Regions from separate parts of the Homo sapiens genome. Here region 1 is linked to region 2. Evidence: fine-mapped expression QTL. Tissue or cell type: whole blood. Region 2 holds a variant in brackets; the other region holds the start of a gene. All regions are shown on one strand. Distances are from middle to middle.

Region 1 (2,617 bases), 78 kb before region 2:
GCTCCCTGTCCAGCCCATGGGAGCCGGGGCGCATTACCTGGAGAGGCAGCGTCGCCCCTCTGCGCTGCCCACCCGCCCTTTTCCGCGGCGGCGCTCCGCAGCTGAGGTGGAGCTCGAGGTAACCCTCTCCCAAGCGATCGCTGGTGGCGGGGGCGGCGACCGGCGGGGCGGGGCAGGGTACTGCCAGCCAATTCCGAGCACCGGGGGGTGCGTGCGCCCGGGGCGCGTGGAGCAGCGCCAACCGTGCACTCACCAACCCACCGACCCTCCCCAAAGCCGGGGACACAGGCGTGGCTCCAGGTGGCTCTCCTGGCGCCCCCAGCACGGGCGCCCCCATGGCACTGGAGATGCACGGAAGAGAGAGAAGGAGAGAGAAAGAGATAAAAGCAGAAAGAAACAGTGGGAGAGGAAGGAGGTAGAAACAGAGAAAAACAGAGACATATATATCGAAAGAGAAAACAGGACAGAGAAATAGGTTATTAAGTGAAGCGAGGGGATAGGAATGCATAGCAAGGCGGGAGAGGAGATGGAAACATGCAGAGAGAGGAGATCCGGACGGTGAAAAGGGGCGGAGGCGCGAGCGGCCGGGTCCCTGGGCTGCGCTCCGGCGACGGCCGCCCGAGACGGGTGTCGAGGACAGGGATCGCGGAGGATGTGGATCCCCTCCCTGGCCTGCCCAGGCGCGCGCGTCCCTCCGTCTCGGGGTACGCAGCCCGGCCGGGCGCACTCGCCGTTTCCGGGCCGGCGGGGCAGCCACCGGGACAAGGGCCACAGCGCCCCCGCCGCCCGGCCAAGGACGCGCAGCCCGCGCCTCCGCCCCGCCCCGCCGGCGCGACCCGCACGGGCGCGCCCCCCGCAGAGGGGCGTCGGCACAAAGCCGCCCCACACAATGGCCCGGCCCGGCGCAGCCCGCCCTGCAACCCGGCTCCGCGCAGCTGCACTCACATCTGGGCAACGAGGGCCTGTGGTCCACGGGCACCCAGATCTTCTGCACTCGGCTCTGCGTCAGTTCCAACGGCATCTTCGCGGCTGCGCCCGACGGCCCGCCTCCCGGGGCCGAGATCCCGACGCTGGCAGGAGAGCGGCCGCCGACCCCCGGAACAAAGGAGGAGAGGGGGGCGTGCGCCGGCGCGCGGCCGGGCGTTTCCTGCGCTGCCAGGGGAAACGTGCTTTGGGCTAAGTTCCGGACCCTCGCCTGTGCGGGGCTCGACGTGTGCTGCGAGGGTAGCGAGGCTGGGGATGCCCGGCACGGCCGGCTCGTCCGCTCGGAAAGCTCTGGGATGCTCGGGCGCAGTGACAGCCGCGCTCTCGCCACCAGGCCCTGCTGCTCGCCTCCTCTCCGGCTTGGCTGGGATGCCCCGCGCACCGCCGGCTTTTAAAGAGTCCGGGCTGGCCGCAGACGCGTACGTCAGCCTCGGGGCGGGCCGCATTCCTTGGGTCCCAGCCCCCTTCCACGTGGGGAGGAGGGTGGGCGAGCCGGGAAGCAGCCTGCGAGCTCCCCCTGCGGGCCGGCGACGGCGGTGCACCAGCTCCCGCCGCCCTGCCCCGGGCCTGGAGCGCGCCCAGCCCTGCTGAAGGGTCCTGGCTGCTGTTATCCCCTCGTCCCGTTGTCCCCTCGGGACGTCTGGCACAGCTTCCCCGACTAATTCCGGCCCCTCACCTCAACTGTGCTGGCCGGGAGGAGAGCAGAGACGCAGTCCTGCCCAGTGTAGACCGTGGACCCCGCAGCCGAATCCCTTGGGAAGCTGCTTAAAGTGCATCCTACCAATGCAGCTCCTTTAGGGCCATGGAGCCCCAATACTCTGCATTCCTAACACGCGCTGTGGGGCAGGCGCAGTCCAGGTAAGGACATGGGCCAGGCTGCTCCCTGATAATACCCGTGAGCCCATCCCCCGCCACGACCCGGGCGACCCGCGGGGAGGAGGCTTCCCTGATCCTCCCACCTCACCTCGTCCTTGTCCACTTTGCTGAATCCCTTAGAAACCTGGACTTGAACTGAGCCTTGCTCCCCTCCCCTAGCCCAAAGACTGGGAACCTTGAGAGGCCCGCGGTGCTGGGTACGAGGAGGGGGCGGGAAAGCCCCGGGGAGCTGGACTGAAGTGGACTGGGGCTGGGGGCAGCTGGCATCTGGTTTTCACACTCACCATGTACACCATTCAATAAACCTTTATCGCCCCGAGTAGAAGAATGAATAAAACTAGACCCATTTCGATCTGCAATTCATTACCTAAGTCGAGGGAAAACTATTGGGGGCGGCCCCTTATTAGGCAGACTCCTAAAATTCACTCCGTTATCCTGCACACCCTGCAGCTCTGCCTCCCCACTTTTTGGTGCATGCGTGCCCCGTCTCCTTTCCCGGCCCTCGCAGTTTGCACCAGCTCGCGACTTGTGACAGTCGTGCAGTCAGGTCAGAGGCGTGCGGGGAAGATCTGGGTTGCTTTTGGTGGGGAACCGCCGCCCGCGCCGGGACGGATGTAACTTTTGCAAACGAAGCCTCAGTACGGGAGCGCTGCGCCGCCTTGCAGAGAGGTGCACACTTAGCGCTGAGGCTGGGCTGTGATTGGAGGGAAGGCGGCGCTCGCTGAAACCTACACCGCGGCGGAAAAGTCTGCGCAGA
Region 2 (2,754 bases):
GACAGGTCACCAGCTCAGCAAGGTCCACAGCGCTGCTCTCTGGGTAGGAGGAGACGGCCTCTGCCGGCCTGCAAGGCCTGTTCAAAACACCCTGAGCCTGGGGTATTTAAGGTGCTTCGTGCCTGATTCCTTACAACTCACTCAGAGCAAATGGTTTAGACAAGCACCAATCTTGAAGGAATTGAAAACACTTTGCTAAATAAAATGAATCATTTCAGATTCCCAAGATTAACTGGCGTTCTGTAGGTCGGCACAAAGTCGTGGCTTTGCCATCTGACGGAGGACGCGCAGCGGTCGTCTCTGGCTGGGTAGACTGAGACCTGAACGCTGAGGGACTTAGGACCAGCAGTGCCGTCCAGGCCTGGCTGCAGACGGTGAGTCACTCTGCCGCTCCAGGATCAGTCAAACTGTGCAAGCCAGTGTTAACTTTTGAAGTTTTGGCGTGGATGAGAGTGTTCAGTGGCTTCAGTGAAGGGTTCACGCTTTGGAATTACAATTTTTTTCTTTTTTTTCTTTTTTTTTTGAGACCGAGTCTCGCTCTGTCGCCCAAGCTGGAGTGCAGCCGCGCGATCTTGGCTCACTGCAACCTCCGCCTCCTGGGTTCAAGCGATTCTCCTGTCTCGCCCTCCCGAGTAGCTGGGACTACAGGCGCGTGCCGCCACACCCAGCTGATTTTTTTTAATTTTTAGTAGAGACAGGGTTTCACCATGTTAGCCAGGATGGTCTCGATCTCCTGACCTTGTGATCTGCCCGCCTCGGCCTCCCAAAGTGCTGGGATTACAGGCGTGAGCCACCGCACCCGGCTGGTTTTTTGTTTTGTTTTGTTTTGTTTTTTGAATCTTCAGTCACCAGAATTGTTTTTGTTTTAGTAAGGCTGTAAAAGCCAGAAAGGGGGAAAAAAGTAATATATTTTCTCTAAGCTCTGAACGTGGGGGTTTCTTGGGCCAAATTATATTATACCTTCATTTGTTTACTAGCATTGTTGTTTACATATTTTAGAATCATATTTGTGTCTTTTTGAATAGGATTTTGGGGTATCTAATACTTTAAACAAATTCTCATACTGCCTAATAGTAAGCTCTTAATAAATCCCTCTTCAATGGTTAACTTCAATGCTATAAAAATATATACTTTCCTGAATATTTCTTACTCTGTGGTTAAGTACAGAGGTGGCATCTTTCAATAC[T/G]GGAAAAAACAAGTTATATCACTATTTCCTCCTTGCCTAATATTTCCAAATTCATTTGTTTCAAAAAGAAGTTCTGCCTTGAGTCTCTCCTTCCCGTCACGCCCAGGGAAGATAATCTACCCAACACAAATCAGCTCACTATGGGCCACTAAACAGCTCAGCAAATCCGGTGGCACCACCCCGTTGGAAATGTTATTTCAGTCTCTGGAAACAAGTTCTGGGTGTGCCCGAAGGATTGGCATTAGCGGGAGGGGACTCACTTCTCGGAGCGAGAGGCTGTGTGGGAGAGCAGTGGGAAGCCTGAGAGGACATGTGAGCCGGAGGGATTATTTTTGTCATAAAACATGCTTTGTCCAAAGGCTTGGAGGAAAAAAGCACTGGCTTCATTTCTGCACAGTCATTGTTGTTAAAATAGCACAATTGGTGCCATGCAGAAGAATGTGAAGATTCTGTATCATCCTCCTTGCAAGGGAGAAGGTGTTTGTGAGCTTTACATGCCAATGTCCACCATGAAGGCCAGAGGGCATCGGAGACTTTTTTTTTTTTTTTTGAGACAGAGTTTGACTCTGTCACCCAGGCTAGAGTGCAGCGGCACAATCTCGGCTCACTGCAGCCTCTGCCTCCTGGGTTCAAGTGATTCTCCTGTCTCAGCCTCCCAAATAGCTGGGCTTACAGGCACACGCCACCATGCCAGGATAATTTTTGTGTTTTTAGTAGAGAGAGTGTTTCACCCTGTTGGCCAGGCTGGTCTCGAACTCCTGACCTCAAGTGATCCAATATTGTTGAGCTGGATCAGCAGGTGTTAGGCATCAGAACTGCCCTTGAAGGCTGGTATGGTGGCTCACACCTGTAATCCCTTGCACTTTGGGAGGCCAAGGGTGGAGGGTCGCTTGAGCCCAGGAATTCAAGCCTGCGCGACAAGAGCAAAACTCTGTCTCAAAAAAAAAAAAGAAAAAAGAAAAATGCAAAAACCAAAACAACAACAAGAAAAAAAAACAAGAACTGAATGTGTTTTCCTTTGGAGAATGGGACTGGTGGAGGCAGAGTGCTGTTCTGATTTATGAGTATTTGAAGACTTAGTTGATTTTATAATTATGTACAGATATTATTTTGACAAAAACTAAAATTAAATAGGAATGCCAACTGTAAACTTACTTTTCAATCCAAATTTTGGTAATAATTATGCAAAATTCAGTTCAGAATGACTTAATCCAGTTGCACCCTCATAAAATACCTGTGTATACAGCGGTCATCTGGGAGAGTTTATTGAGTCACCATCAGCTTACTTCTGAAGAGATTCAGCGTCAATTATTGTTACTTAGTTCCTTATTCTGAACCTAAGCACAGTACTGCAAGTAACTGCAAAGCATGTCTGCCAAATTATCAGACTTTTATTCCATTTATTCCTTCTGCTTTTTTCCAAGAGAAATGAGTAATAAAGTTCCCTTAGCAACCCCCTTCTTGTCAAGCCACTTCCTCCCCTCATGTGAAACCTGGTTTCAGCAAGCCAGGGACCCACAGGGGTTTGTCACGAACCCGTCCATGGATAGACACTGTCTTAGCTTATC

The links. PIP is the estimated chance that this variant, and not a neighbour inherited with it, causes the effect.
Region 1: it holds the start of PFKFB3, and the variant in region 2 is fine-mapped to the expression of PFKFB3 in whole blood (TOPMed, PIP above 0.99).

Annotation. Positions count from the first base shown.
Region 1 is chr10:6,201,665-6,204,281 of GRCh38, reverse strand. PFKFB3 (6-phosphofructo-2-kinase/fructose-2,6-biphosphatase 3) reads right to left here and starts at 1,350. Exons shown (of 15, transcript NM_004566.4): 1 at 946-1,350. The coding sequence starts at 1,021. It overlaps PFKFB3-AS1 (PFKFB3 antisense RNA 1), which reads left to right and starts at 1,525. Exons shown (of 2, transcript XR_007062045.1): 1 at 1,525-1,842. RefSeq lists silencers at 198-277, 508-1,017, 1,138-1,247, 1,298-1,627, a cis regulatory region at 1,156-1,687 and an enhancer at 1,621-2,125.
Region 2 is chr10:6,123,576-6,126,329 of GRCh38, reverse strand. It overlaps LOC101928080 (a long non-coding RNA gene), which reads left to right. Exons shown (of 3, transcript XR_930619.3): 2 at 219-374. Among named protein-coding and RNA genes, the nearest start is that of MIR3155A, 27 kb to the left of the region's middle. The variant T/G (reference allele first, on the strand shown) is at 1,187.